Regions from separate parts of the Homo sapiens genome. Here regions 1, 2, 3, 4 and 6 are each linked to region 5. The links come from fine-mapping of genetic effects on gene expression. A gene starts in region 5. Each other region holds a variant in brackets. All regions are shown on one strand. Distances are between the middles of the regions.

Region 1 (5,086 bases), 290 kb after region 5:
GATAATCCCCATGTGTCATAGGAGGGACCCAGTGGGAGGTAACTGAATCTTGGGGGCAGGTTTTCACCATGGCATTCTTGTAGTAGTGAATAAGTCTCATGAGATCTGATGGTTTTATGAAGGGGAGTTCCCCTGTACATGCCTCTTGCCTGCTGCCATGTAAGAAGTCCCTTTGCTCTTCCTTCGTCTTCTGCCATGATTGTGAGGCCTCCCCAGCCATGTGGAACTGTGAGTCCAATAAACCCCTATCCTTTATAAATTACCCATTCTCAGGTATGTCTTTATTAGCAGTGTGAAAACAGACTAATACAGGGACCTTAAGTGTAAGACAAGTTTAGACATATACATAAAAAAATTAAAGTTAAATATTTTTGCACTTCTGACATGCAGCTGAGCTACGCTTGTGTTTCTAGAGGATCTAAATGTCAGCGATGGGCTCTGAGAGGAGGTGAAAGGAGGTAAGAGGAGAGACCTGAGTGTCCAGAGACCGCAAGCACTCCACGTCTAGATTTTCAGGTTCCTATTATTATTATTATAATACTTTTAAGTTCTAGGGTACATGTGCACAATTGCACATGTAATAAAAATGCTACAGCAGGTCTCATTGAGCTGTCTTAGCTTAAGGTAAGCAATGCTCCCTTTGTAATTCAAGTTAATCAGTGCAATTTTGCCTCCAGAGAAAGGCTGTTTTCCACACTGACTTAGTATGGGCTCTGAGAAACAATATGTCTGCATTTTCTCAAATATTACAATTTATGGTTAAAATAAAATCTTGTTATTCTCACGAAATCCTGAAGGTCTTTAAGTGTTTTCCTTCCATGTCAGAGTCCAAAATCCTGGAAAGGCCCTGGTCTCTTCTCCAGGAAGGAATGGCAGGAGGAACCTCCCCTTCACCCTCCCCTCACCCTACCCACCCCGCCCCCTTACCATCAAGAATAACCAGTGGATGAGAGGGGCATGCCAGTGACCTTAGATTCAAGATAAAAGCACGTGACATTCTTTCAAAGCCAGATAATTCTATAGACAAGTTGGAGCTTGGGTGAGCAACCATCCTAGTTTCCCCAGGGCTATTTGGGTGTTAACACTGAAAGTCCCACATCTCCGGAAATGTCTCAGACCCAGCAAGCAAACCAGGAATGGTTCTCCTGCCAGTAGGTCAGGACTTGTGGGTCAGAGGTCCTCCCTGCCCCCAGGGCAGCTGCCTCCTCTCCTGACCGTTGGAAAGGGCTCTGATGCACTGATCTACACCCTGGTTCTCCGGGCTGTGTGTTATCTCTGACGGCAGCCCCTGTGCCGCCAGCCTACCACCGCCACACCGTGTTAAATTTCAACCACAATCTGCTGCCTTGGCTCTTCTTGGTATCTCTAGCCCAACGACAGCAGGCTACTTCCCAAGAACACCGAGAGTTTAGAAAGTTTTTTGTTTTTTTGTTTTAACATCTTTGAGTGATCTGTAAATTTACTAACCTATCAATTCTGATGATGGAGTCTCTTTTCTTTGTTGTTGCTGTTGTCTAAATTAGAGCTATATAATTCCAAAATGCTTGAACATGATATGGCACCAACATTCACTTCACTACCCCAAGCTTTTACCCTCAAGTAAAAGATGAATTCAGGAACATGAGTTTTTTTGTTTAGTTTCTGGTCAGTGGGCATCCTGGTGGGGTAAAACATAGTAACAAGAAAAGGAAGAACATGTAGATGGTCATTGCTTTTCAGGTGCATTGCAGAGGCTTCTCTCTGAAGGGTGACTACAGTTCTATACGGCCATGTCAGTCCACCGGCATTCATTCATTCATTTATTCATTCATTCATTCAACACATATACATTGCTTGGCAAAGTGCTTCTGAGATGCAACCAAAATAAAAACCCTGCCAGGATTCATTATGGCTGTGGTCTCCCTGTACTAAACCTCACATCCATTTTTGTATTTGATGTGTCCTGCAAACTGCTGTGTAAATGGGAGTTTTATGAGCAAATAGAAGGACCTGGCAATAATGCTGCCGTCTTAAGGAATAGAAGAGCCTGTTGTTGCACAATAGAGAGCCAGGAACAGAAATCGGTGAAATC[G/A]GCTCCAACACTGCCCCTCCCCCAATACACCCCAGGCACACTTCTGCTTGACAGATGCCAAGGCCTTGATGCCAGGACTGGGTTTCCAAGGCACCAACCCATTTGTAAGGTGGCACTACAAGGATTCCTCAAGTTCTGAATTAATTCCACATAGCAGACAATCCTGCATCACAGATTTGGAGTGCAAGCAACAGAATTTGCATCTGTGAACTCCAGCAGAGGGCCTAGGTGCTAACAGTTCTGGCAGTTCTCTGAGCCATGCAAAAGACTGGGTCATCGAGTTTGGGAATGAGATTGCTAGGGGCCTGAGAATAGGAATGGCAAAATGTGGTCAGAGTTCATTGCTGAGGTGAACAAGTAAGCTCCCAAGTCTCAGAGAGCAGCATCCCAGCCACAGACCGTGCTGGCATGTACCAAGAAAGGAGAAGAAGCACTGGTCCTCTTGCTCCTGCGTAGGCTGGCATGTGGATCCACCCCTTCTCAAGGTATCACACAAGTGCAGGGGCCAGAGGAAACCAGGGGCTGCAGAGGTAAGGGTCAATGTGGGGTGGCCCCAAAAACAGCTCTCCTGACAAAGTTTTGTGGCTTTTTTTGTTGCTAGGCTGCTTCAAGTATCACTCAGGGATGTAGAAGACTGTCTCATAGGTCTTAACTATAACTATCTGAGTCTGAATAATGGCTCCCAAAGACATCCACAAATCCCTGGAACCTGAGAATGTTACCTTACACGGCAAAAGGGACTTTGCAGATGTGATTAAGTTGAAGATCTTGAGATAGAGAGGTAGTCCTGGATTATCTGAGTGGGCCCTTAACGTAACCACTGGGGTCCTTATATGAAGGAGGCAAGAAGGTTAAAGAAGGGATAGCCATGTGACGATGGGGCAGACACTGGAGTGATGGACTTTAAGTGGAGGAAGGGTCCACAAGCCAAGGAACGTTGGCCATGTCTAAAAGCCGGAACAGACAAGGAAGCTGATCTCCCCAAAGCCCTGCCGAAACCTTGACTTTAGCCCATTGAAACAGATTTCAGGCTTCTGGCCTTTGGGAACTGTGAGAGAATACATTTGTGTTTTGTGTTAAGCTACCAAGGATGTTAGAGCAGCCATGGGAAAGGGGTGCTGTTTGCATGAGAAAAGCAGGAAGACAGAGAGAGGAACTGTGTCAGCCTCCTGGTCTGTGGGGAGCCACATCCCAGGAACCCCAACCTCTGCCTTTTGCTGGGAAACATTCTCCCAGTCTCCCAGTCTGAAACACCTCCCTCAAATCCCAAAAAGACAATGGTGGGAATCCTCCAAGGTCCAGCAGAGCCTTGGGACAAGATGCAATCTTTCGCTAGCCCCAAGTGGGTGGGTTCACCCACCCTCAGCTCCAGCAGGTAGGCCCTTCTGAATCTCAGGCTGGCTGAATAGGTTCCAGACGCAGGAGGGAGCCCCCCCACCCCCTCTGGCAGCTGGAGTGTGTGCTGGAGATCTGGGCATGGGCTTGCCCAGGCAAAGAGTGGAGAAGCTTTTATAGGAAAGCTGTAAAAGCAAGCAGGGTTGACCTGGGCACTCCCCCAGTTCCCATGAGTCTGGGGCCCACGACTGGCTCATCGATTGCTTGAACAAGCACACATCAGAGACATCCAGATCAGAATGGAAGCTGCTCAAGGCTCAGATGATCCCTGAGCCACCAACGTTATCCTGGAGGTTCTTATCACAGAGTATGGGAAATGCCATACTGGGCTGTGGGTTTGCAGAAATCCTCCAAAAGATGCAGAAACAAGTCCAGCTGAAAATGGAATGCTTCCTGATGGCTCATTTTGTTCCAGCCTCAACCCAAAGGTATCTATCACAATATTTCTTGTACAATGGGTTGTGCAGCGGGGGGAAGGGAGATGCTTTACAGGCATAGTGTGGGGTGAGGTACATTTCGTAACAGCTCTTGTTTACTGAGATGGCTTTCTACTGACAAAGAAAAAAGTCCCGAAAAGAAGGGGGCCTGTTAATTGTTTGCTTCCTTTTGCTTTTTTGGTTACAACAGTAAAAACTGTCCTTCAAATTTAGTCCCAGAAGACATCAGAGTTTGACAATGACAAGTGGGGAATAGAAGTTCCTGGGCTATCAGCTTCGCGGCTCCCTCCTCTACATGTGGGCTCGGGGACACAGAGCTGGTCCCTGCCCAGTCTCGGAGGCCAGAGAATCAAGTTCTGGGTGTGTGAGACTGATGGGACAGGCTTCCTCTGACCGAGTTGGGCAACTTGGGGCTTTTAACTGCCTTGGGAATGAGGGTGGGTGCCTTAAATGAGGAACTAAGACAGGCCCTCATTTCCCAGCAGGGATGCCGCTCAGCCTGCAGAGTTCCCCGTTCCCAAGGCTTGTGAAGCAGGAGACAAAAGAGGGGCCTTCCTCAGGACACTGTTGTGGGGTGGGGTGCTCACTCGCTCTCCTGTGCCCATGTACTCCTCTCCCCCTCTACTTCCCTCTCTTTGGGAATCCCTATGGGGCAAGTACAGGGAGATGGGAAGAAGTGGGTGGGATGGATCTGGGCTAATGACGAGGGCAGCCTCTTCCCCCCTCGGGTCTCCCTCCACCCTCTTCAGTCCCTAGTACCTGCTGGGACCTGCCTCCTTAATAGGTAACCCCTACAGCTCTCCTCGGCCAGTCTCTGCACACTGCGCCCATGGGTTCCCGATGCCACTGCCCTCAGAACATGCAGTCAGAGGCTCTGGGGAGCTAGAGGTTCAGGTGGGTGTAGAGAACACCACACATATCCTCCCAGGGCAGCCAGGACATCCCACGGGGAGGCAAAGAGGGTCCTGTCCTGGGCTTCCTCCACACTCAGACCACTTCCTCACCTGCCCACCAAGCAGCAGTGTGCATGGTTAATGGAAATTGGCATCTCTTCTATCCATGTGAGGAACCACCAAGACCTACTAGCTAGGTTTACGATCCAGGTTCTAGATACCAGGGGTTAGGAGGGAAGGACCCCCAAGACCTACTAGCTAGGTCTACAATCCAGGTTGTAGATACTATG
Region 2 (5,086 bases), 55 kb after region 5:
GGACCCCACTTTGCAGCAAAACCTATAGAGAGCAGGCAGGACTGGACTCCACAGGGACTCAGGCAGGCCATCATCCCCAGCAGCTGCTGTTTGCTTTTGAAGAGCTGGAGCTCCTCCGATTTTCTTTTTTCCTTTATAAAAAAAGTATTGAGGTACAAGTACACACAGGGAAGCACACAGCTTGCACAGCCAACTTTACACATTTCTACAGCCAAGGATTGATTTGCCTCCCCAGTGAAGATGCAGAACCTTCCCAATTTTAAGTGAGAGCACCTCGGTGCTGCCTGCCCAGGCTCGCCCCTGACCTCCTGGCTCACCCTTGCTCTGGGGGCCTGAGCCTGGAACCCCTTCGGGGACAGACTGGGGATCCAGGCCTCTAACCTCATCCTGGGTAGGTCCCCCAAGGGTGCTCAGAGGTCCCTCAAGGCCCTTCTAACAGGAAAGGGGGCTATCTCCGCTCATGGAGTAGGTTCCGATGAGTCTCTAACTCAGTCAGAAACTCTTCCCAGTGTTACTCGACCATGACCTTCAGGCCAATATGTGTCACTTATTTCTGCCAAGACGCCTGCTACAAAAATCCTTGACTGTAGAAGATCTGGTATATTTTCTTAAAAAGTAAATCAATTCTATTACTTTGAATTCTGGACCCTTGAAAGGGGAAAGTGGTGAGTCAAAGCTTCCTCAGGCATTGGATGACACTTTGAAAGGCTTTCTGAGGGGAAAAAAAATTGCATTTTGTCTTCAATCAGTGCCTATAGAATCTCTTTCTCATTTAAGTGTTGGTGAAAGGATTCTATTGTCTCTAACCCAAATAGTCTAAAAGACTTGCATTCATTCATGTATTTACTCGCTCAGCAAAGGTTCGTTGAGCCTCTATTATGTATCAGGCACAATTCATTCTACATGCTTGGGAATTAGCAAGGACAACCCCCTGCGCTCATGGAGCTGATGTTCAGTGGAGGTGGGAGGCATAAGATAACACGTAGGGGAACCAGTGACCAAGACAGTGAAAGGTGCAGGAAATAAACAAGGCAGAGTGTAGTGGACCAGGTGCGGTGGTGGGACCAGAGAAAGGAAGGCCTCTCCTCTGAGACCTCAGGGTGATCAGGAGCAACCAGAGAAGAGCGGTCCAGACAGAGCCACTAGAGATGTGAAGCCCAGCACAGCAAATGGGGAGGAAGGGGCTGCATCGGGGACATGCGAGGGAGGGAGCCATGGATGGGGGAGATGGGCTTGAGAATTAGGCCAGGCTGCAGGGTGAGGGGGCATGCCCGAGACAGGGCTGGCCCTACATTCCCAGGACAGTGGAGGGCTCTTGTCACAGGAGTAACATAATCTGATAGAAACTCCAGATTACAGGAGACCAAGGGGACATGGTGACTGAATGCAATATACTATCTGGAATTTTCCATTGCTATAAAAGACATGATTGGGGCAGGTGGTCAAATCTGAAGAAAATATGTAGATGTTAATATTGCATCCATGTTAATTTCCTGATTTTGATCGCTGAACTCTGGTTAGGTAAGAGGATGTCCTCATTTTTAGGAGATACACACTGAAGTATTTAGGGGCAAGGGGCAACAGGTAATTTACTCTCAATGTTCAGGAGAAAAATGTGATGTGCTTACATGCATGTGGGGCAGGATGGAATGGTGGCAGTTGGAAGGGAGAAGGATAAAGCAAAATGTGGCAAAATGGTAACATCTGGGTACTCTGGGTAAAGGCTATAAGAAAAGTGTCTCTACTATTTTGCAAACTTTTTGTGTGTCTGAAATTATTTCAAATAAAAAGTTAAAAAATTAAGAGCTGTGCCTGGATTGTGGCTGTGCCTGGATTGTGGCTGTGCCTGGATTTTGGTCAGGAGTAGAAGTCAGGAGTCCACCCCGGGAGACCTGGGATGTGGACAGAGGGCAGACAGGCTTTGGAGGAAGAGGAGGGAGGACTTCCTGATGTGGAAGGTGAGGGAACAGAAGGAATCAAGGATTCTAAAGGATGATTTGGGTCAGAGCAATTAGCGGGGATGGCGCTTCCTGAGAATAGAAGCAGGAGTGGGAAGTGAGATCGGTTGGGGAGGGGCTGGGGTGGAGGAAGAGTGAATGGAGAGTTCTGTTTTGCTGGACCACGAACTCAACTCAGGGGTTATCTAGAAACAAAGGGCTGTCAATTCATTTTAAAGGGCTTTTTTTTAAGTTGAGTTTCTGGAAAGAAACTCCAGGAAGGTGGACTGTACCCACTGGCTGCTTAGAGAAAGCCTGGAGCATGAATATTTAGACATTTGCTTTAATGAAGCACTCTCATAAGCCGGGGAAACAGGGCCTTGAGCATCTGTTCATGAGAGGTGGATGATGGCCCAGTGGCGCCTATGGAGCATCTATGAACACAGGCCAGACAGGGCACAGGAGGGAGGTCCTCAAGCCTAGAGGATGTTAGACTCCCCCAGGGGCTTTTACAAAATACCCATACCAGAGGCCCACCTCTCTGAGTCTGTGGTGGGGGTGCAGTGTCATATTTTTAAAGGGTCCCTAAATGACTCCAGTGTGCAGCTGGGCTTGGGAGCTGCTGAATGACAGCTTGCTCAAAACTGCCAGGGATGACTCCAGCAGTGGTGGGGCAGCCACAGCAGCATCGGGTCCAGCAATGCTCCCCAGGGACAATGCTCTGAAGGACAGCAATCAGCAAGGTGCTTTCTGTCTGTTTAAATTTCTGTTGTAGTTGCAAAATGATCAATTCTCTTTTCTGTTTCCCTTTGCCAGTTTGCCCTGGCACAGGCATCCATGCCTCCAGCCAAATTCAAGGTGAGTGGAGGACAGAGTG[T/G]GCTGTAGGGCCCAAGGCCAAGGCCAAGGCCACGGCAGGGTGGAGGTGAGGTGGCCCCGGGTTGTGAGCCTGGGGAGAGCCCAGTCATCATCAGGTGAGTCAGAGCCTTCAACTGACAAACCCAAAGAACTCAGCGAGCTCAGAGACGGGAGGCGGAGCCATAGTGTGGACCCCAGAAGGGCTAGAGGTAGAACCGAATCTGTGTGTGGCACAGGCAGTGAACGTGGGTGGATCATGCTGTGCTTGAGCCTGGCCTTCCATAGCTCAGGAGAGTGTAGAGTGTGAGGGGAATCTCATAATCATGGGAAAAGTGTCATCATCGTCCCCTGAAAAACAAGGACAGGAGGACACACAGGGGCAGGCTCTGAGAGAGCACATTCAGGTGTGAGCACTTAGAAGGGAAAATGATGATTTGTGTTGGGGAACAGACCACAATGCACATTGCACCCGGTTAGACACCAAGCTCTTCCAGGGGAACTTCTACTTCTGATTGCTCAATACTATGCAGAAATGGCCTCCGTGGGAGCCTCCACAGGCACACCCTTGCCCGCTCCAAGTCCCTCCCAGGACCAGACTCTCTGTCCCTGCCCCAGCCAGCAAGGCTCAGAACAGTGGCTGCTCCCAGGTAACTCCCAGCCTGATTCCGGGTCCAGTCACCAAGCTCTGGGGATGGCCTTCTGATGGCTTATAGGTAAATGCTCTCATCCCTGCTGGAAGATCCTAATAACATTTTAAATTGTGTCTCTCTGTCTGTGGGGCTGCTAGCATTAGCCAGTGTGCCTCTGACTCAGCGGGATCTCGCCGTACCTGGCACCTAGTAGGCACTCAACACACCGTTGTTGGATGGGTGTGTGGCAACTAAATGTCTGACGAGGACTCAGGTAAATCATCTTCTATGAAAGCCCAGTCTTTTCTTGGCCTCTTGACCTTCATCATATGTATGTACTGTTTGCACTTTCTTTTTTTTCTTTTTTCTTTTTTTTTTGAGACAGAGTCTTGCTCTGTCACCCAGGCTGGAGTGCAGTGGTGCGATCTCGGCTCACTGCAATCTCCACTTCTCAGGTTCAAGCAATTCTCCTGCCTCAGCCTCCTGAGTAGCTAGGATTACAGGCGTGCGCCAGCACACCTGACTAATTTTTGTATTTTTAGTAGAGACTGGGTTTCATCATGTTGGTCAGGCTTGAACTCCTGACCTCATGATCTGCCCACCTTGGCCTCCCAAAGTGCTGGGATTACAGATGTGAACCACCGCGCCTGGCCTGTTTGCCACTTTCAAAAGAGTAGTGAGAACATGGAGCCTATTCAAATGACAGAACTTTTTTAAACAGCAGGTCCAGCCAGCCCTTTGGCAAAACGGCTCTCCCTTTTAGACGCCCCTTTTTGCCTCCTGGTAGCCCCCTCCTCCTTCCTCATCTCACCTGTTTGGGCCCTGGGGCCACTATTTCTCCTCTCCTTTTTAAAAGCTGCTGTCCAGGGCCATAGCGCTGCCAGGATTCTGATAAATAAGTTCACCTGAAGAAAATGACTGATCATGTCTTGATGAACTCACTGTCACTGGCTGCTCTGGGTGGCATGTGCATTTCGGACAATTTAGTTGCTTCTAAACTTGGTGGCTGGTATAAAACAGAAGTCTTCATGAGTCATAAAAAAAGGACACGTTGGAGAAATAAATGTCAATATTATGGGCTCTTTTATGGAGTATGCCCTATGCCGTTGCTTAGAACAACCCAAGCTCACTCCCGCCTAAGGCTGCAGCTGCCCGCTTTTTCTAAATCGCTCTTCTCTCTATAGCTACAGGGCTGGCCTCTTCAGCAGTCAGGGCTGCTTGAATGTTACTTTCCAGTGGCACCTTCCCTGGTCACCCACTCATTCCCACCTTCAGTCTTACTATCTGGGCAGCAGGCTTTGCGAACACTCTGGGAGCGCCAGCTTTAATGTGTGCTAGAACCTAGGATTACTAGACCTGGGAGTGGCTGTGGAATGATAGGGAAGGACTCAGGTCCTAATCTCTGGGGGCCTGGACTATGTGCTCCATGAGAACAAGGGCTGTGTGAATGCCATCCTCGCATCCCTAGCACTGACACATAGTAGGTGCTCAGGGAATGTCTGTGGGATGATGTAGCTCTTGCTTCTGGAAGAATGTGGCTACCCTACAAGCCTGGACAAGGTAAAGAAGTACTAAGTTGGGTGGGAATGAGAGAAGCTTCCCATCTCCCTCCAGACCCCTGATAGCATCCCTCTGTGGGACCCCGTCATATATGGCCTTTCACAG
Region 3 (5,000 bases), 22 kb after region 5:
TAACATGCTTCCCATTCCAGTTCCTAAAACATTTTACTATTAGCAGTTTATAGAAGACTTACGGAGTGGTTTGATACTTTTTTCAAAGAAGGCAGCTTAAGTGGATGGAATCTGATTTTCTCTTAGGCACGTGCATCTGCGAAGGTGTCTGAGGTGAGCCAAGCTCGATAACCTGATTTGTTGAGTGAGTTACTTTTCTGTGGGATGTGTGGTGGAGAAAAGACTAGAAGTGTATTTTCTTGTTGATTTGTCTGTTATTTGGTCCCTTGAGAAAGGCATTAACCTGAAGTAGTCTATAGTGAATTCTGAATAGATACAATGTTAGTATATATGTGAGTTTACACCTCATTTTTGCTGATACTTGATCATAAATTCTACTAAATTAGTCAAAACAACAACTTAAGAAAAAGTTTGATACATAGCAGGAGTGCAATATTTGTTGATTTAAAGAGACTCTCATTAGCGTTTAATGCAATATACGAGTGCCACCAGTTCCTTCTCTTTTCACTTGGATTTCACCAGGGTGCTCATTTGAAGCTTAGAACTCTGTCCTCGGCAAAGAAAGCCTGGCATACACTGTACAAGGTGTTGACTCATCTTTGTGTTCCTCTGCTCCTCTAGTGTGAGGTGTGGAGTAGGAGGTTCCAGCAGGTGACCCAGCCCAGCCTTGGTCCTCCCATAGGCCTATTAACAACCCTGGGGCAAATGCCTTAGCCTGCCTGGAAATCTCAGTGTTAGGGCCATGGCCCTTCCGCAGTGGTCATAGCAGTGTAGGGAGTTGGTGCCTATGGGGAACTGGCCTACATTGAGTTAGAACAATCCACACGTATGTTTATTGCGGCATTATTCACAATAGCAAAGACTTGGAACCAACCCAAATGTCCAACAATGATAGACTGGATTAAGAAAATGTGGCACATATACACCATGGAATACTATGCAGCCATAAAAAATGATGAGTTCATGTCCTTTGTAGGGACATGGATGAAATTGGAAATCATCATTCTCAGTAAACTATTGCAAGAACAAAAAACCAAACACTGCATATTCTCACTCATAGGTGGGAATTGAACAATGAGATCACATGGACACAGGAAGGGGAATATCACACTCTGGGGACTGTTGTGGGGTGGGGGGAGGGGGGAGGGAGAGCATTGGGAGATATACCTAATGCTAGATGACGAGTTAGTGGGTGCAGCACACCAGCATGGCACATGTATACCTATGTAACTAACCTGCACATTGTGCACATGTACCCTAAAACTTAAAGTATATAAAAAATAATAATAATAATAATCCCAATTCTTGTGAGTTTTTTTTTTTTTTTGAGACGGAGTTTCGCTCTTGTCACCCAGGCTGGAGTGCAATGGTGCCATCTGAGCTCACTGCAATCTCCGCCTCCCAGGTTCACGCGATTCTCCTGCCTCAGCCTCCTGAGTAGCTGGGATTACAAGCAGGTGCCACCATGCCTGGTGAATTTTTGTATTTTTTTAGTAGAGACAGGTTTTCACCATGTTGGCCAGGCTGGTCTTGAACTCCTGACCTCAAGTGATGTGCCCACCTCAGCCTCCCAAAGTGCTAGGATTACAGGCGTGAGCCACTGCACCCGACCAGAACAATCCCAATTCTATCTGTATCACACAGTGTGTTTCTCATCTAGGATACAGACTCACTGGGCAGCAGCCGTGTCTGCCCTGGAAAGTGGGGGCATCAGGGAGGAGGAGGAATGTGTGAACCTAAACACATGGAAGACCTTCAAAAGCACCAGAACACAGTCTTTCAGCACAGAATTCTTTACATCCTTAACTTGCACTTGTGCTAATGAAGACTCTACCTCCTGTTCTTTTCCTTCTGTGACAAAACAAGTTATCTGTCTGGGAAGACATGGCACAATTTATTTATACAACATTTTTATGGCTTGCAGATGACTCCGCTGGATCCTCCCTCAGAATTGCCCTTCATAGGGAAGTTCAGTGGCCACTCAAGTGGTTAGCAAAATCAAGGTGAAAAGTTTTTCTTTTTATTCAAAATGGGATAAAAAGAAGCAGCTGCCTTTTGTGACTTTTAAGTGAGAAGCTTTCATTATGTCTTAGCCCTACAGTGTGTTATCAATAATCATATCTGTGTTAAATTGTACTTCACTTTGTATATCACCATTGTAAGTTTTAACCGTATACATTATAGGCTTTTTCCATTTTTATTTTAAAAACTGTTTAAGGTGTAGCTTTTTAAGGATTCTGTTTTTGCTCTTATTTTTTACCTGTGTCTTGGTCTTTCTTATCATGGAGGTGAAAACAGTAATACTGAAGACCTTAATGTGAGTTTAGGAGAAAAGATGTTAATCACCAGTTTCCTGCTACTGGTTTTAAATTTCATAGAGGAAGCCACACTTATTTTGTCATCAGAAATTCTTATATTTTTTGTTTAAATTCTCATCTCCCTCCCCTCTTGCCCAGATCTGGTTTTTTGGCTAGAAACAACTTACAGTAACTTCAAATTAAGCATTTTAATTCTAAGGAATGGTCTTAAGTGAACCAATGTATATAGAGTTTTATCTTTACTTTTAAAAGGTCTCTAAAGCATTTTTCTTCTTA[T/C]GGGGAAATAAATTGGGTAGTTTACCTCGTCAGTAGAAAAAATATAGGGATTTGTGTCTTTGCACTAAAGTAATTTCAGGGTTGGTCTTCTTTTAGCTGTCCTTAGTTTTGGGATTATTTTTGTTTTTCAGAATAAAATGGCACAGGTCAGATACTTTTAATCCCCTGAAAGTAATCTAAAGCTATAGAAATGGAGCTGTGGCTGTCGCAGAGACTTACTAGGATGAAGGTTGGTGTAGAAAAACTAAGGAGTAGTAGCAGTATTCAGTGTCCCGTGTCTTTCCCCAGAAGAACACTGGCAGAACACCAGGGGCAGAACACTGTCACACACTATTCAGAGCAGCGATTTCAGGAGCACACCAAGGCGGGCCAGGTGGTCAAGGGGCTTCCCAGGGGATGTCATACAAGGCACATGGAAAGAACTGGTTTAGGACCAGGTTTGGCACAGGTTCACTGACAAAAAGTGGGGTGATGATTGAGAGGGATCATAGATTTCCTTTATAGTCCCAGGGGCAGAATCAAGATTGAAGTGGGGCTTAGAAGGGAACATTTCAATTCCCTACGAGGAATAGCATCGTAGCACTCAGTGTTCTTCAGCGAGGACAGCAGTGCCTTAGGAAATGTGCATCTGTCCCAGGAAGCGGGCACACAGGCTGGGAGTCTTAGAGGGCTCCTGCTCAGGTCTCCCACATGGTGCAAGATGCTGGGCTTCTGTCGTGACTCAGCTGGGGATGTCCTTGAGTATAGGGATCACAGCTCAGTCTGGGTTTGCTCCTGGCTTGTCCCCAGCTGCTAGTAAATATGTTAATATGTGTGTCGGGGACAGCTCTGGTGACATGGATAATTAGTTTTTCTGATGTTGAATGAGAAATGAGTAAAAAGGCATAACACATTAATCTTAATGTCTTTAGACTTGTATTTTTATTATAAGGGACAGATAATAGTGAATGAGGGAAAAAATCTCATGAACACTAGTTTCCAGACTTCTGTCCAACTTCACAGCCTTGGTTTACTGGCAGTTTCCAAATGGTCAGGCTGGAAATTGATGAAAGCTGTTTCTTTTGACCATGGCTCCATAAAGGCAATGGGCAGTGCACGTTGAAAGAGTAAGTATGAAAACACTGGCCTCATCTCATAAACTTTATTATTGATAGTATTTTATCCTAGCAGCTGTTTTTGAAGCACTGTCTTGAATTCATGTGACTGCCCAGGCTTTTGACACAAATGTGTTCCAGGGAGACAGATTGAGGAATCTTTGAGTACTAATGCTGTCATCGTATTTCTCATAGCTTTTGTTTTCATCCAGTGGCTCAGCGGAATTGATTGGGATTGCCAAAAAATAAAATGATACAAGTGAGAAATAGACCTGGAGGGAGGTGTGTGTGTGTGTTGTTGGTTACTTGCTTATTTTATTTCTGAGAACCGTCAGAGTTGAGGATTTCAAACATGATTCTGATAGCATTTACCGCAAACGCTGATGGCAGTTGCTCTCCTTTGCCTTATAGCTAACTGGGACTAGAAACAGCTCCATCACCCAGGTGAGTTTTATAAGGAAACATAAGGGGGCTGGTCTGTTGCTTCCCTCCTCTTGTAAGCTTTGGATAACTCTGAATTTAGAAAGATATTTCTGAAGATATTTAAAGAAGGAGACTTACAGAGTTGAATAAACATCCTGGAATTTTTCTTTCTCTAAATGAATGTCAGCTTCAGAGAGCCCACCTGCAGACAGAGGCAGTGACTCCCCTAAACATTTTCGGAGTATCTCTTGGAATTGGTTTAAAGCTGGTTTCAGAGTCCACAAAGAAATGGCCCTTTACAGGATCCTTTATTGCTTTTGGTGGTTAAAGCAGAATCTCTCTGGAGAGTAAAGGTAGACAGCCCTGCAATGTCTGAAGGACAGGCCTTCTTTCTCCTCACACCCCTGCAGTCCCTGGCTGTGCCTGGCTGTTTCCCGCAAGTGCCAGACAGAATGTGCACTTTTTGGCTAAGTATGTTCTATTATGTGTGTAAAATCCTCTCTCAGTTCTGAGTTGAATATCGATTCAAAGCTTAATTCACGCTGATGACTTGAAAATCTAATCTTGATTCTACTCGAGTGTTTGTAGATATCTGAACATCTGAAAACAGTACAGAGTGCAGCGTTCCTGTGAATTTTAATTTGGTTTCTGGTACTACACTTGAAATTCCAGTAATGATAAGATGGGAACTAAAACAGCAGCTGCCCCTCGGAAATGAGGGTCGCACCACCTCGTTCCCAGACTGAGGCTGCAGTTGAGAATGCTTGTGTGTGACATGCCCCTGCCACCCAGTACACACACCTGAGTCATTAGATGTCACTTTATGGCATCGTCACAGAGAACAACTGGGTTTTGGAGAGAGAATGTCATGATGTGACTTCATTTCCTT
Region 4 (5,072 bases), 45 kb after region 5:
CTGATGCATGGCAGGTGGTTCCCGCGACGGTGTGTTGGAGGTATCCCCCACCCAATGAGAAGGGGGTTTGTGGAGAGACAGTCATGTAGCCCGGTCTCGTGTGGATTAGTCATTAAGAAATGTCCAGGGCAGATTTCAGACTTGAACAGTGAACCAGGTTGTAGCTCATGGCGTCGAGGTTGAGGTGTTGTGTTGCCGCTGCCTTTGGTGACTGTGAATTTATACCTTGCACATACTCACAAAATGGATTAGAACCTGAAAGTGGGCGCTGTGGAAGACCTGAGGACCCTGAAAGCATTGGATAAGCTGGTGATTTCCTTTTGAACAGTTTCTCAGTTTGTAACAAACATATGCTGGTCACTGACACAGAGACTTTTTTATGTTCTGGATTGCTCTTTCCTTCCCATACCGAGAAGGTGGGAGGATGGGGGTTGACATTGCCTGTGTCTGTGACCATGGGCACCCCTCTGGGTCACGGTGTTTATCATAGCCAAGCAGCCAGAGGCACAATGGCGCATCACTGCGAGACTTTATTTAGCTTCTTAGGGCAGATTACTCCAAATCACTGGTTTTTCAAATAAATTACAGCTACCAGAAATTCACCCCTGGGGGAATCTGCAGCATATTTGAATGTCAGTTAACTTGGGTGGTAAGATAGTTGCTTTACATCCTCTTTGAGTTTTTCAAACATTTTTTTGAGTGCTTTTTTTTTTTTTTTTTTTTTTCCTATTTTAAGGAGTAAATCATTGGTATGCCTGCCCTTTTTGTAGGGATGTCTTCCCCTTTGCAGGGAAATGAAAACAAGTTTTCTTCACAATCTCTGGGAGGCATCGTGCTTTGTGACACAGTGCTCTTGAAGAGGTGCCTTTCATGGTGATTAAGATGGGATTGGTTGTTCACTTAAATATGGGCTCCCACCCCTCCCCACCCCCAAATTAGGGAGAAACTAAGAAGCTTTCCTTTTGTTGTTTCAGGTATTTTTGAATAATTACCAAGCAGCCGAAGACCACCCACGAATGGTTATCTTACGACTGTTACGTTACATTGTCCGCCTGGTGTGGAGAATGCATTGACAGGTTCTTTGCGGAGCCGAGATACCATGCAGACATTTTGCTTGTTCAAACCAACAAGACCCAGCACCGCGGTCTCCTGGTGCCATTATTATGCAGCCAGCGGTTCTCTTGTGGAGGGGGCAGGTGACGTTTCAGAAGACACCGAGCTGGATGGGACTACCTTTCTGTTCATCACCACACAGCAGAATTTCTAATGGAAGTTTGTTGTGAATGTAAAGGAGGGAGCATTCTTTGCTTTTTAATATACAAACCATGGTTTTTTGGAGCAGGATTTTGTGTAAGAATGGTGTTTACATGCAGTGTGTTTTCCCCCTCACCTTCAATAAGGTTTTTCAAAAAGGAAATGGAAACTTTTTAACCAATTTGTGAATAACTTTTGTATTAAAATTTTAAGAACCTACGGCCTATTCTCAGAGGATTATGTAACCCCTGCAGTGGAAACTGAGCCAGCTAACTTAAAAAGCTGCCTTAGTTTATTTTTAGAGATTACAGAATTTTTAAACAGGGAGACGTGTGATATACTCCCTCCCTTCCCTACTATTGCCTCTCTGACCTTTTTAAATTATTTTTAATACCAAAAGAGTTCTTTTGAAATGGAACTGATTAAAAGGGCAGAGGGTCTGTTGCCAGCCTGCATTGATATACCAGTCCCATTTGTAAATATTTACGTACCTTTATAAATTCAGTTGCATCTGTGGCAAAATTTCAGACTATTTTTGCGTCTTTCCTCATCACTTTTTGTGATGCAACTCCAGTCTGGACTCAGATGCATAGATTTGGTCCAGTGTATTTTCATGATAAAGTGAAATTGAGTCAGAACAAGAGTTAATATCTGCCTGTATCTTGCACAGTTCGAGCGATCTGTTATTAACTGGGAAGCATTTGGTGTTGGTTTTCATTCCATTTCGACGAGCATGTTATTGGGAAGTATTCTGAAGAGGCAATAGCAGTAATAACAACAGACTTAAGTGCTACGCCCCTTTGTGCTGCTGGCTTTTCTGGTTGCAGGCTTTCCCATGGTCACAGGATGCACTGTCAGCATCAGGTCCCAGAGGGCCACCGTGTCCATTACAGCAGAGTCCAGCTGCAGCATCCAGCTCACGCCCTCATGGGAATTGGCACAGGCCTGGGGCAGGGCTTCTGATGGCCATTTGCTTGGCCTCCTGCATTTTAGTCCAACTCACAGTCCACTAGCTTCACTCCTTTAAATTCACTTTGAAACAGGCCTCATCCCACTTCCACCAGCACCATAGAAGAATAATTCTGGGCAGAAGTCT[G/GT]TTTTTTTTCATTTTTCCAGGACAGTTGGATATTGTCAGGCCACTTGTGACCCCAGCCATGTAGTGAGGGTGCTCTTTCTCTGTGCCTGCTCCTTATGAGTGCAGTGGAAGGAAGCCACACACTGGTCAGTCATTTCAGAGGCAGCAGATGCCCAGGGAGACCCAAGAAAGAGTCAGGTTAGGGAGCAGTGAAAGTGAGGAGGGAAGACAATTCTGTGAACTCTGTAACTCTTAAAATTTTTGAAAACTCCATCGTTAAACAACTTTTAAAAGAAATAACTAAATTTTCAAATGAGTAAGCAGTGCCACCAACTAGTGTTTTGCCCGATAGAAGAGCCAGCATGTTCACGTTATTTAAATTAGGTGGAAAAATCTAAACATTTTTATCTTCATAATTTAAAAAATATATATGTATATATTGCATATTCACTTTTTCCTTTAGGTAGAGATGATTTCAATCCAAATACTCTTACTTTAAAAAATTTCCTTTCCCCAAGAATCTCCTTGGGACTTTGACTTATTTTTAAAGCTGTGTTGGAGCTCATCTTGTTCCCTGATGTGTCTCGAGCCCATTGGTAGGGTCATACAAAGCCCACGGTTACAAGCAGTGGTAGGATTGCAGCCGTGGGCCTGCTGGACACACACATACACCAAAGATGTATTTGGATCTGGGCACCCCCTCCCAGGATCCCTGTACTCACGTGCCAGTCTCCTGACTAGAGCACTTTACTCTGTTTCCTCAGCCCTGCAGCCCCTGGGAGCACACACTGGGTGCAGCCCTGGGCCAGGCACGGGAGGCCCTGCCCTGTGCTGCCCAGGGGCTGTGTGCACCACATGAGCACATTTCCCTCTGGCCTGGCGGCCTCCAGGCTGGCTGTGGAAACAGTTCCTGAGGAAATTAGAGATTCTATGAATTGTAGGAGTATTAAAGACCAGGCTGTTGGCACCAGAACTTAAAGCGATGACTGGATGTCTCTGTACTGTATGTATCTGGTTATCAAGATGCCTCTGTGCAGAAAGTATGCCTCCCGTGGGTATACGTTTTTACCTTTTTTAAAAAACATTTTTGTAGAAAAAATAATTAAATCCCCTTTTTGGAAACTTACTGCAGGTTTTGTGCCTTGACAACCTCTCCCTATGTGAGGTTTGTAAAAAGTGTCCTGTGACTTAACACAGAAACGCAATAAACACACACAAAATAGTTTCATGAGTGATTCTTCAGATGCCCTTCCCAACTGGTTAGTTGATCAAGAATTTTGGGGGTGGGGGTTGCGGAGAAATCAAGTTTAAAATTCCTTCTGATTAAAAAAATATAGTGGAATACAATTGTCTGCCGTTTCCCCTTCTTAATGTATATATTGTGAGTATTTATTAGATTCGTAGGTCATATTACTTATCAACTGAGCCAAATGTCTGTGTGCAATTGTGTTTCCTTTACCTTGTAAAATTTTGTACAGCATAAATAAGTAAAAAAATCACTGTTTTTCTCAACTTTTTCAAAATCAAGGATTGTAAATATTGTAGATTCTTTTTCTGTGTGATGTGTCCTACTGTTTCATAATGCTGTAACTTGTAGAAATATTGTATATTTATTTTCTGCTTATTTAATGTCTTAATTTCTGAAAAGTATTAACATCCCTGTCTCCCACTCCCCTGCCGTCCCATGAAGTTAACTCCTGAGAGTTGTCGGGGGTGACTGGAGAGCTCATTGCAGACCACGTGGTCCTCCAGGGTGGCTCTCCACCTTCGGGTCCTGGTATTTCCAGTCAAGTGGGTTTCAATTCTTGGGCTTTGCCGCCCTTATGATGAAGTGTGTGTTTGATGCCAGTGAGAAACTCAGTCTGGCAGGCTACAAAATTCTACTCCAAGAAATACCCAGCAACCTTCTGTTTGTTCCAAAGCAACTAGCTTATCATGCAAGCAAATTTTGCTGACTCCAGGCTTTATCTTTAGGAAAACAAAAAAACCAAAGTATTATCAGCAGGTGGGAAAGATTTTTCTATTGAAAATTTATCCCTGACAACTCAGCGTTTAGAAAAGAAATAAAATGTGCCACTTCCAGAGGTGCTGCATTGCAGTTGTTCAGGGCTAGGGCCAGGCAGGACAAGTGAATGGGTGGGACAGGTGGCTCCTGCCTAAGGACCACCTCAGGCCACTAACCCCTTGTGGACAACTGTGAGTAGCTGGGTTTTCCCCCACCTGCTGTGCAACTTCCTGTGCTTTGAGGTTGGACTAACTTGTCTTCAGGAGCTAATTAACTGTACAGCCCTCCCCACGCCCCACCCATACGGTCACTGCATTTGGTCAGCCTGCTTCTTCAGGTCGATGCCCTCCTTCTGATACTCCATCTCCTTCAGGGGAGGTTGGGGCCCCACTGGACTGGGTGTCAAGATGTGAAAGCTTATGGGAGCTTTAAGGAGACTTCATGGTGGTTCCATGCAGGTGGTTCTGCCATCCCTGCTGATTTAGCCTGGTGCCTGTGTGTGTCCACTCACGTACACGTGGGGTGGGGGAAACGTGTCTACAGATGACGCTAAATCAGTTGGGGTCTACTCTAAACAGCATTGTGTGTAAGAAGCATCCTCAAGCTCCCAGTTAAGTAACTTGACTACTTTTATTTGGGAATTTCAGACTATAGAAGCTCTCTTATGTTTTATGTCCAGATTCTGTGACCACTAGTTACTGTATCAGAACTCATCAGGTACCCACTTATAAATAGCAC
Region 5 (5,075 bases):
CTTTCCGCGAGCGGGAAAAAAGGTTTGGTTCAGCAAGTGATGCTATTTCAGTGAATCAGACGCTCTGGGGCTCTGCAAGGAAACGCACGGACTGGGAGAAGGAAGTGGGAGCCTAGAGTTTTGCTCTCGGCAAAACAAGAACTCGGCTTGTCCTCCCAGGCCGGCGGTTTCCGTACGGCAAGACAAGGCGCGGAAAACATTTTTACCATCTGACGCTGTAGTCTGTCCTTTAGAAGAGAATAGGTGAAAAGTTTAATAAAGAAATTAAGCGATGTGGAAGTCGTTCCCGCTGCTTGCAGAGGGTGGGGAGGCGGGCCTGGGCAATTTCGGAACTAGGAGAGACCACGTCGGCAAAGCCTGTGGTCCCGAACAAGGGCCATGGATTTCCCATTTCTCAGATCCCGGCTGCCCGACTTCATTCTTGTTTCTTTCAGCACAAGCCATCCTCCCTTCTCCCTCCCTCCACGTCTCTTGGCAGAGACAGAAAGGGACACCGCTCTGCCCGCGTCCAGCGCGAAGGAGGTGACCTAAAACCCATGGGCCCTTCTCACACTGCGTTCTCTGCGCTCCGGCCCAGTTCCGGGAGGACCTCCCGACGGCGCGGGAGAAGGCTGTAAGGGCTCTTGGCCCCCGACGCGGCCTGGGTCTCGGGGGACGCATGAACCCGCCACCTCTGGCCGGCTTCCTTTTAGTGCCCCAAATAGCAGCGCTTAGCCCGTTGCTTCCCCCGACTCTTGTTTTTCAAAGTGTTCACAGGGTCGCGAGAGCGAGCGACGCGGGGGCGGCGAGGCTGCAAGGCTGCACAGGAACAGACGACAAGAAATAGGGCTTTCTTCTGCGTGGTTCTTTTCCGGTCCCTGTCTGAGTCGCCCGACCCCGCGGGGAGCGCGGAGCATTGCGGCGTGCGGCGGGCTTCGGGCTCTCAGCCCGCGCAGCAAGTTGTGTTGCTTTTCCCCGGGTGCGACGCGGGACGGCCGCGAAGAGCAAAGTTCGTCCGCGGTAGGAACTTCGAGGCCCGGTTAGGACCGATCTCCGGCCTCCGAGTCTACTTAGCCGTGTCCACGCTCGTGCCTTTTCCCTCTTGCAGCGAAATAACTGGGCGGGGCCCGACGCGCGTCCTCCAGCGACTCCGGGAACCCAAGGCCTCCTTCACCTCGCTCAAAATTCACCCGAAAATGCGCTGAGACTTTGGCATGGGGCTGCGCTGTGTCCCACTGACGTTACAGAAGCGCTTATGAATTTAAAAACTGCTCCAGGCGGCCGGACGGCGGGACAACGCCTCCTCACTTGCTCCTCTACGGCAAGGCCCCTTCCTTCTCCCTGCCGGCTGCGGTGGTGTGTAGGGTGGTCCCTTTACAGAGTTTCCTTAATCCATCTAGCCTGACCTCACCTGCGGGATGTTCCATTTCCCGATCCACCTCCCACACCCCCGCTGCAGTTGTCTAGAAGCTGGGGCTGGGGAACTGAGGCGCGGGAGGAGCAGACAGGAGGGCCGGGGTTGGGGCGCCAGCCACGCGTTGGGAGAGCAGACCCGGGTGCAGACTCAGAGGACTGGAGAGGCGGCATGGAGTTTGGTCTCCTGGGAGGTAGAGTGAGGTGCTGCGGACTCCAGGGAGGAAAGGGATGGGTGGGGAGGCGGGAGGGGAGGAGGGACGGGGTATTTTGCGCTCCCGCACCGCGGCCCGAACTCAGCTGTTCTGCCTTCACTGGCCTCAGCCAGTCGAGGGAGCTCCTACGAGGTTATCTGCGAGCCCAGCAAATCTTGGGGGTCCTAGCCAAATGCAGTGCGCAACGTTCTCTCTCACTTGGAGGCCGCCATTCACCTCGTTTTTTTTTTTCCTAAAAGGATTTTTTTTTCTGAGTGCTTTTTTCATTTCCCTATTTTACCTGCTTTGCACATGCCTCCCGCCCTCACCCGGGAGGCGGCGAAGACGCCCACTGGGACCGCGCCTGGCCGTTTTCTGGGCGCGTCCTGCCCCCACGGCCTCTGTCTCTTAGGGCGACTGGGCGCGGAAGAAAAGCTGGAGAGCCCCTGCGGGGTGGCAGGAGGAGGGTGCCTGAGTCCCGCGAGAGGCCCGGGCGAGGAAGATGCGCAGCCTGCTGATCCGCGTCCCGCCCGGCGCCAGGGACCCTCAGAGGGAGGAGAGCTCAAAGACCTCGCCCCGCGCCTTCGCGAGGACCAACCCAGTCCCCGCGCCTGCCCCAGAGCGGCTTAGAAACTCAGGGCACAGTGAGAGCGCAGGGCGCCTCCCGAGGCTTCACACCGCCGGCCGGGCCAGCGGAGGCTGTGACCGGAGCGCCCCCTCTGTGCCGCGCACGCCGCGGCCGCCGCCGGGTTGGGGTAGGTGAGCGGGAGGCTAGGGTACACTTCGGGGTGGGGGATGGGCGCGCACATGGCCGCCAGCAGGCAGAGTTACTCCGGTAAACACGCCAGGGACGGCGGCGCGCGCGGGAGGCAACCCAGCGGGGCAACCCCCGCCTTTACCTGTCCGAGCCTGCACGCGCCGGCGGCCGCGGCGCCGAGGGGGGCGGAGCTTGCCAGCCCGCGCGCCGGGGCGGGACCTAGCGGGGGCGGGGTCCGCAGTGATTGGGCGTAGGAGCGGGGCCGCCAGCCAGAGCTGGGCTGCAGGGCCGCGCAGGTTTCACTTCGCTCCGCGCAGCCGCCTGGTCTGCAGTTTGTTGGAGCTCTGCGTCCAGCGCCGCTGCCGCTGCCGCCGCCGCCGCCGCCGCCGCCGCCGCCGCCGCCGCCGCCACTACCACCACTTGATTCTTGCAGCCACCCTGCGAACCCTGCCACACTGCGATCGCATCATCGCGGTATTCGGTTCGCTGCGTTCCCGCCGCCACCGCCTCGGCGCCCTTTCTTGGCCCTTGTTCCCCCAAATGTCTGACTCTGACTCTCGGACTGAGAAACGCAAGGTAAATACCTCCAAATCCCGGGGCGCGGGCCTGGCACCGAAGGAAGACTAGCGCTGGAGCCCGAACGGCACCACCTACTGCCCGCTTCCCGTGCACGTGCGAGCGGAGACGCTTGCATCGGCGCCGCTTGTCGCCGGCGGGAGGTGGGGATCCGTGTGGATCGGGTTCCCTCTCGGGCAGGTTCTCTTTAAAGAAAAGTCGTTCACGCGGAACCTGCAGGCTCTTGGCCGAAGTGCGGCTTGGGACGGGATGCTGCGCGCGGGCCTGGTGAAGGGTCGTAGGTCCGGGCAGGAGGAGAGGCAGCGCGTGCCTTTCGGCGCCGGCCCGGGAGCTGAGGACCTGCTCGTAGTATCGGGCTGTGCGCCCAGCTGGAAAGTCTCGCCGCCGGCTCCGGCGCCCTCAGAGTAGCGGCCGCGCAGTGTGAGGGTGTTTCGTGTCTTGGTTTTTTGGGGCGCGTGGGCCTGTTGCGGAGGATTTGCGGAACTGCGGTGGTGATTTAACTGACGAGACACGGCTTTTCCTTTTACTCATTCAGGCCAAGGTTTCGGGGCCACTGCTGCGTTCGCTTTCTCAAGCGTACCTGGGGCCCCTGCTTGCTCTGCAGGAGTCCTGCGGCCTGTGCCATCCGCACGATTCCCTGGCAGCGAGAAATCTAGGTCCTCCCCTGACCACCTGGACCGCGCAGGGGACTAGTCGCGGCCGGCAGAACCTGCTCGGTCCCTGGGCCGGGCTATCTTAGCGGCTCACGCATGCCCGAGCACACCCGACCCGGTTCGCGGTGCAGGCTGGCGGCGCCGTGCCCTCTGGGACCTGTTGCCCCAGGGTTGGCGCTGCTGGTGGAGGGCCCGACGGACGCCAGGGCGGAGGGTGTGAATTTACTCGATGGTCGCGGACGTGCGCGTCCGCGGCCAGGGGTGGCTCTTCGGCTTTGACTCGTGTCTGCGGCGCACCAGGAGAGAGAGGAAGTTGTTGGAGGAGAATAGTTGCCACAGCCAGGGCGGTGACGGCCGTTAGGGTCTGCCCCCGACGGGCCAAAACAAGGACAAGTGGCGAGGACTGGGCCTGGGGATGGCCCTGCGGGTCCGGGCGCGGCGCAAGTCCTGCTTTGTCTCCAGGTGACTGGCTGTCCAGGACGGCGGGAGCTGCTAAGGCTTGTGTCCGGAAGGAGCACAGGGATGGGCAGGGTGGCCGGGCCAGCCGGCCCTCAAATCCTCCGACGAAGCGGCAGCCGCCACGACCACGGCCAGAGCAGCGCTCGGAGGCGAGTTTGTCAACAATCGCCTCGCCTTTGGCGGCCTGACCCGTAGGCGCCGCCCCCACCGCGGCTGCCGATTGGCTGCGGCGCGGAGCGACCGCGCGCGGACCAATTGGGAACGCGGGCACCCGGCGCCAGCGGCGCGGGGAGGTCGGCGGTGCCGGCGGCGGCGGGCGCAGAGCGCGAGGGGAGGAGCGGGAGGAGGCGGAGGATGTTCCCGGCGGCTGCGGCCGGGGCAGCGCGGGCCAGAGGCGCGGCGTGCGGAGCCCTCGGCTGCCCGGCGGAGCGCGGCGGCGGGCTGGCGGGAAGGCGCGGGCTTTGCGCTGCGCCGGGGACTCTGAACCCGAGTCCCGGGCTTTGTCTCCTGCGCTGCTTTCGTGGTGACGGTCAGGGGGCGCCCGGTCGGCGAAGGGCGCGGGCCGGACGCCGCGGGGCTTGGTCCCTGGCCCGGACGCTGCGCTCTGAAGGGAAGGCGCGGACGTGAGTTTCGGTGTGATTGCCTTCTGAGGGGAGGGTCTGTGGGATGAAGGCGGCGCGGCGCGCACCGGTGTCGCCTAGCCTGCGGACCTAGTTGTAGACCTTGCAGGCGTTCGCTTCGTCGCCCTCCGCCGCCCCCTCCCCATTTAGAGATGTGCACCTCACGGTGTGCACCTCAGAGAAGTTCTGTCTGATTCGGTGCGGCGTGCGGTACGGGAGCGGGAGGGAGGGAGCACGGGCGGAGAGAGCGCCAGAGCCGGGCCGAGCCGCGCTGGAGTTACAAACTCTATTGTGACGCACTTACTACGACTGACGGCCGCTGCCAGACCTTCCCCAGACTTGCTGCCCTCAGCATTTTCGGCAAACAATGGGGCCGGAGCAGGGAACGCGGCCAGCCGCCTGCAATCGCTGCATCTGCGCCCGC
Region 6 (5,086 bases), 260 kb after region 5:
TGATAGTCATAAAGACAATCCCTCATGCCACCTTCGTGTGTGGGTCTTTCAAAAGACATTCTATCTTATTATCCCATTTGATCTTCACCTGACCCTAGATGGGTCGGGCAGGGCAGAGCATCACCCTCGTTTTACTGTGGAGGAAGTGGAGGCCCAGCAAAGCCACTCTTGCCTGAGTGGGAACAGCTGGTTCAAAGATAGCCCTTTGCCCAGCCCTCTGGGAAGATAACACCTCCGGGCCAGTCTCTGTGGTGCAGGCAGTAGTTTGTACATTTGAGTGTGCACCCAAATCAAGGGGGCCATCCTCGGCCTGGTATAGCCTGCTCCCCTCAGGTTGGGCCTGGGACTTCTGTGTGGGCCCCGGCCCCCAGCACCAAGGTGGGCATCCAGTGATCTTAGTTCACACTGGGCTTTTCCATGGACACAAGCTTAGTCTGCATTGGCAAAGTGGGGACAATAGCTCAGCATGTGTCTAGGGCTGCCTCAAACAGTGACGGACCCAGAGGATTTCATCTCCTTTCCCTGCATGATTTGATGGGCTCTCTAACTTGAACTCCCTGTGTAGAAAGAATGTGGTTATGGGCTGAGTTGCGTCTCCTCCCCCACATTCATGTGTTTAAGTCTGAACCTTCAGTTCCTCAGGATGTGACCTTATCTGGAACTAGTACCATTGCCGGTATAATTAGTTAAGATGAGATTATACTAGAGTAGGGTGGGCCCCTAATCCAACATGACTGGTGTCCTTATAAAAGGGGGAAATTCAGACACACACACAGACAGGGAGAATGCCCTGTGAAGATGCAGAGACAGGTTGGGGTGGTGCTTCTGCCAGCCAAGGAACACCAGCGGCTGCCAGCAAACACCAGAAGCACGAATGATTCTCCCTCATGGCACCCGGAAGAAACCTACGCTGCCCAAGCTGACCTTGAACTTTCATCCTCCAGAACTTCCAGGCAATCAATTTCAGTTGTTAAGATCCTCAGATTGTGGAGCTTTGTTATGGCCTTCCTGGAAGATGAACCCAGATGCTAAAAAGGCTGAGGAGTGGAAAACTGATGTCTGTGGTTAGTTTACCTTGAAAACCAACCATGAGGCCCCTTCCAGCTCTGTTCTACAGACATCGATTCTGCTTTATTGTTTTTACCAAGAGTAGTACTCCACAATTGTAAACACAGTCCACAAGTTTTCTACTCCAGACCATCTCTTTAGCAGAGAGAAGGAAATATCTGTCTTCCTTCTCCAAATCCTAACCCTACTTTGTTCTCAATAGAAATTATATTGTGTCTAAGTCTCCCAAAATGTCTCAAAAGCAAGACAAACACCCACTTCCTCTTTTGGAAACTGATGGGACCCTCTACAAATTACATGTGGAGACATCACTCTTTCCCAACCAACATAGAAACTCAAACTCTTGTCAACTTTCCTAGTATCCCAACTTGCTTTCAAGAGAAAACTAAAAACTCATTCACATGAATAAAGTATAAATGACAGTCAAGAGCTTAAAGTGTTAGCTGTCCTAGGTGGGGAATAAGCTCACAAGGAACATCGGTAAAGAGGAACATGTCAGGAGTGGGAGCCCACTTTGCCTTATACCCTGACCAGGTATGTAGTCCTCAATGTAAAACTCTCCCACTGGGTGGGAATTCCTCCCACCCCAACAACGCCAGCCTCCCTGTGGCTTTGCATCAGGCTCCATCTCCTCATCGCAGCGTGGAACTCTATTCCTGTCTCTCCAATGTCCTCACACCCCAGTGACTCCAACGTCCTCTAGGACTAGGGAAGTCTGCACGGAACCTACCAAAATCCCTGGCACTCTGACAGCCCCTTCTAGTGACAGGAGCTTAAAGTGTAGCTTAAAGAAGCAGCTTTGGACCTGGTAGTACCTAGGGCTAAATTCTGCAGTACTCAGGTGGACCATAAAATAAGGCCATATTATTAGACTTGATGTGTGAATGCCACTCTCCTTTTCTTTGATTGTCCTGTTCCTGAAATCTACCTGCTCTAGAATTGCCTCCCAGATAATGTCTCTTCTAGCCTTGCTCTTCCCCCAGAGTTTCCTATTGTTTATACAAGTCCTGGGTTATTGTTCCTCCACCCAGCATTACTTAATACATCAATTAATTAGACTATAGGCTTTCCAGAGAGAGAATCGTACTTTTATCCATTTCCCCTTCCCAGATTTTGGTGACTTACATGTAGAAGTTACTCAATAAATATCTGTTGAAGGTTAATTCAACCTGAATTTCTTGTGTTCGTCTACTCTTGTTACCTGTTTTGGTCCCCAAATCCTTCCCACTTCAGACATTCGGTCAGCCCATCAACAGAGGTTGTCTCCTAACATAGACCAAATCTATAAGGAGCTGATTTCCTATTAATTCAGTGACAAGATGTCACAGATCTTCAGAGTTGGAAGATTCTTTAGAAAGTATTTCATCCATTTCTTTAATAAGAGGCCATGTTACTCATCCAAGGCCACACAGCTGGGGAAGCAGCAGCAGGGCCTGGCAGGAAGATGTTCTGGTGGAAGTGAGGCCATTCATCATGTCCAAGAAGCTGTCATCTGGGTGGCCAGCGTTGGGTGAGAGGCCAACTCATACACTTGTTGGAAGGTTCCCTCTATTGGACCCTGGGCATTTCTATTTAACC[CA/C]AACACGCCTCTGCATAAGTCCAGGTATCTCCATCAGATCTTCTCCGCAGGTTATCCTCATAGGCAACTGGACGAGGGGCCCATCCCCAATACAACCAGGCTGCACAGACTCCTGCTCCCACCGCTGGGTAGCAGAGACACAGCCTCCTGCCCTATCTCACAAATCCATGGATGTGACCCATGGGAGTGACTTCCATTTAAAGTTTTGGGCAAATCTCGGAGATTGCTGTTTTCAACCACTGGGGAAGCTTAAAGCCAAACAGTCCTACTGGCATAGAAGTAAGCCTCATTTGTTTTCTATCTGAACACATGTTTTACATCAAGAGAAGGGCTGTGGTTGGGGTAGGGAGAGCTGAAGGGAGATTCAAAGGTTCTTCAGCTCTCACAGATCTCAACCTCTTCAAAGTTTCAACCCTCAGAGCACTTAAGATGTTTCATCCCACTCAGCAGAAGTGCCTCTGCCCACACTCTCGTGTGCCACAGTGCGTGCGTGGGAACTCAGCTGTGGTCCAGAGCCAGTAAAGGAAACGGGACAGTCACCTCACTGTACTTTTCCTAGAGGATGTAATTTCTCCTTTGGGATTTGATAAGCTTCCTAAGGCACATTCACATGCACAGGGCAGATGAGACCTGCTTGTTAGTGAGGTCACATCAAGCCTCACATGGTGATGTGTATGAATGAACTCATACTTAAAGGAATGGGCAACTCCTACCTGGGACCTTGAGCAGGTGGGTATGGGTCAGAGCCCAGAGTCAGGGTGGATAGGCAATGGGAAAGAGAGAAAAGGTTTGCTTTTAGTGGTAACCACTCTCTAGCCTCAGCATTCTCAACTGCAGACTGGAGATAATAATAATGTCCTTCTGTGATATTTGGGGGGTTGACCAAATAAGATTTCTTGTAAAAGTGCTGTGCACAGGGCAGATGAGCATCAATTCTGTGACCAGGAAGGGATTCCAGTGCCATTGCCAGCTCCTGGTTGCGTTCTTTTGAGATGATGTATTTTTTTTCAAGGGAAAGGAGCAACAAGAGGGTACCTGCAGTCTGTAGGACAATACAAGTCAAATTCTGGAGTAAAATTGTAGCACTTACACTGTGTGCTGAGTCATTTGTGATCAGAGGGAAACTGAAAAGTGGCATAACAGGGTGACGGACAGGCCCAGGAGAATTCACTATGAGTCTTGGGAGTGCTGCTAGCACCTCTGCTACCTCCTAGGTGGGTCATTTCACCTCCCTGGCCCAACTGTGAATTCAAGAATACCACATCCAGCACTGCACTGTGGCAAGGGCTCCTGCAGAATAATGCAAGGGAAGAGAGCTGGAAACGACAACGTACTGGTCACATGTGTGATGCCATTTGATGTGGTTTGGCTCTGTGTCCCCCCTCAAATCTCATGTTGAATTACAATTCCCAGTGTTGGAGGAGGGGCCTAGTGGGAGGTAAGTGAATCACGGGTGTGGACTTCCGCCTTGCTGTGCTCTTGATAGAGTTCACGAGATCTGGCTGTTTGAAAGTGTGTAGCACTTCCCCCTTATCTCTCTCTCTCTCCGGCGTGAAGATGTGTTAGCTTCCCCTTCGTCTTCCGCCATGATTGCAAGTTTCCTGAGACCTCCCAGCCATGCATCCTGTAAAGCCTGTGGAACTGCAAGTCAATTAAACCTCTTTCCTTCATAAATTACCCAGTTGCAGGTAGTTCTTTATCACAGTGTGAGAATGGACTACACATTATTGTTATTGTTAAAGGAAAAGAGGAGGGGGCAGGAGGAAGAGGAGGAAGGAAAAGGGAGAAATGAGGAAAGAGAGGGAAAGGAGAAAGAGGGAGGAGAAAGGGGATTGCCTTCCTTTTTAAAAAAATAAACTTTTTATTTTAGAATAGTTTTAAATTTCCAGAAAAGTTGAGAATAGTCCAGAGAGTTTCCCTAGATATCACACCCAGTTTCTCTCATTGTTACTATCTTACATTAATGAGGTACCTTTGTCACAATTAATGGCCAATGTTGATGCATATTAACTAAAGTCACCCTTCATTCAGATATCCTTAGTTGACCCAGCTGTCCTTCTTCCACCATAGAACATCATGTTACACTGAGTTGTCCCATCTCCTTAGGCTTCTCTTGGCTGTGACAATTTCTTAGACTTTCCTTGTTTTTGATGACCTTGACAGTTTTGAGGAACACTAGTCAGGTATTTCGTAGAATGTCCCAACATTGGGATTTGCCTGGTGTTTTCTCCTATGATTATTGGGAGAAGACCACAGAAGTAAAGTGCTACTTTCATCACATTCTATCAGGAGCACATCCTATCAACATGACGTCACTCGTGATGTTGACCATGATCATCTGGCTGAGGCAGTGTTTGTTGTACGTCTCCACTGTGAAGTTTCTCCCCTGCCCCCTTTCCACACTGTACACTTTGAAAGGAAGTCACTGTGTGCAGCCCA

Direction of the effects. Positions count from the first base shown, and alleles are read on the strand shown. Sizes are in standard deviations (SD) of each study's normalised expression. Not every link is listed here.
In carriers of allele G in region 2, the expression in pancreas of the gene that starts at base 2,645 in region 5 tends to be lower than with T alone (small effect, 0.25 SD a copy in GTEx).

The links. PIP is the estimated chance that this variant, and not a neighbour inherited with it, causes the effect.
Region 1: its variant is the best candidate, but not a certain one, in a credible set for the expression of BCL2L11 in whole blood (TOPMed, PIP 0.81).
Region 2: its variant is the best candidate, but not a certain one, in a credible set for the expression of BCL2L11 in pancreas (GTEx, PIP 0.64).
Region 3: its variant is the best candidate, but not a certain one, in a credible set for the expression of BCL2L11 in whole blood (TOPMed, PIP 0.50).
Region 4: its variant is the best candidate, but not a certain one, in a credible set for the expression of BCL2L11 in whole blood (INTERVAL, PIP 0.51).
Region 6: its variant is the best candidate, but not a certain one, in a credible set for the expression of BCL2L11 in whole blood (TOPMed, PIP 0.76).

Annotation. Positions count from the first base shown.
Region 1 is chr2:111,406,739-111,411,824 of GRCh38, forward strand. All of the region lies in intron 1 of MIR4435-2HG (MIR4435-2 host gene), which reads right to left. Among named protein-coding and RNA genes, the nearest start is that of SOCAR, 82 kb to the right of the region's middle. The variant G/A (reference allele first, on the strand shown) is at 2,072.
Region 2 is chr2:111,173,716-111,178,801 of GRCh38, forward strand. No RefSeq gene overlaps it. Among named protein-coding and RNA genes, the nearest start is that of BCL2L11, 55 kb to the left of the region's middle. The variant T/G (reference allele first, on the strand shown) is at 2,815.
Region 3 is chr2:111,140,389-111,145,388 of GRCh38, forward strand. All of the region lies in intron 2 of BCL2L11 (BCL2 like 11), which reads left to right. Among named protein-coding and RNA genes, the nearest start is that of BCL2L11, 22 kb to the left of the region's middle. The variant T/C (reference allele first, on the strand shown) is at 2,595.
Region 4 is chr2:111,163,159-111,168,230 of GRCh38, forward strand. BCL2L11 (BCL2 like 11) reads left to right here. Exons shown (of 4, transcript NM_138621.5): 4 at 975-5,072. The coding sequence ends at 1,073. Among named protein-coding and RNA genes, the nearest start is that of BCL2L11, 45 kb to the left of the region's middle. RefSeq lists enhancers at 2,639-3,139, 4,454-4,513. The variant G/GT (reference allele first, on the strand shown) is at 2,351.
Region 5 is chr2:111,118,270-111,123,344 of GRCh38, forward strand. It overlaps BCL2L11 (BCL2 like 11), which reads left to right and starts at 2,645. Exons shown (of 4, transcript NM_138621.5): 1 at 2,645-2,919. ACOXL (acyl-CoA oxidase like) reads left to right here. Exons shown (of 18, transcript NM_001142807.4): 18 at 1-279. RefSeq lists enhancers at 1,850-1,929, 3,080-3,199 and silencers at 2,210-2,749, 3,083-3,377, 4,170-4,729.
Region 6 is chr2:111,377,930-111,383,015 of GRCh38, forward strand. All of the region lies in intron 1 of MIR4435-2HG (MIR4435-2 host gene), which reads right to left. Among named protein-coding and RNA genes, the nearest start is that of MIR4435-2, 59 kb to the left of the region's middle. The variant CA/C (reference allele first, on the strand shown) is at 2,647.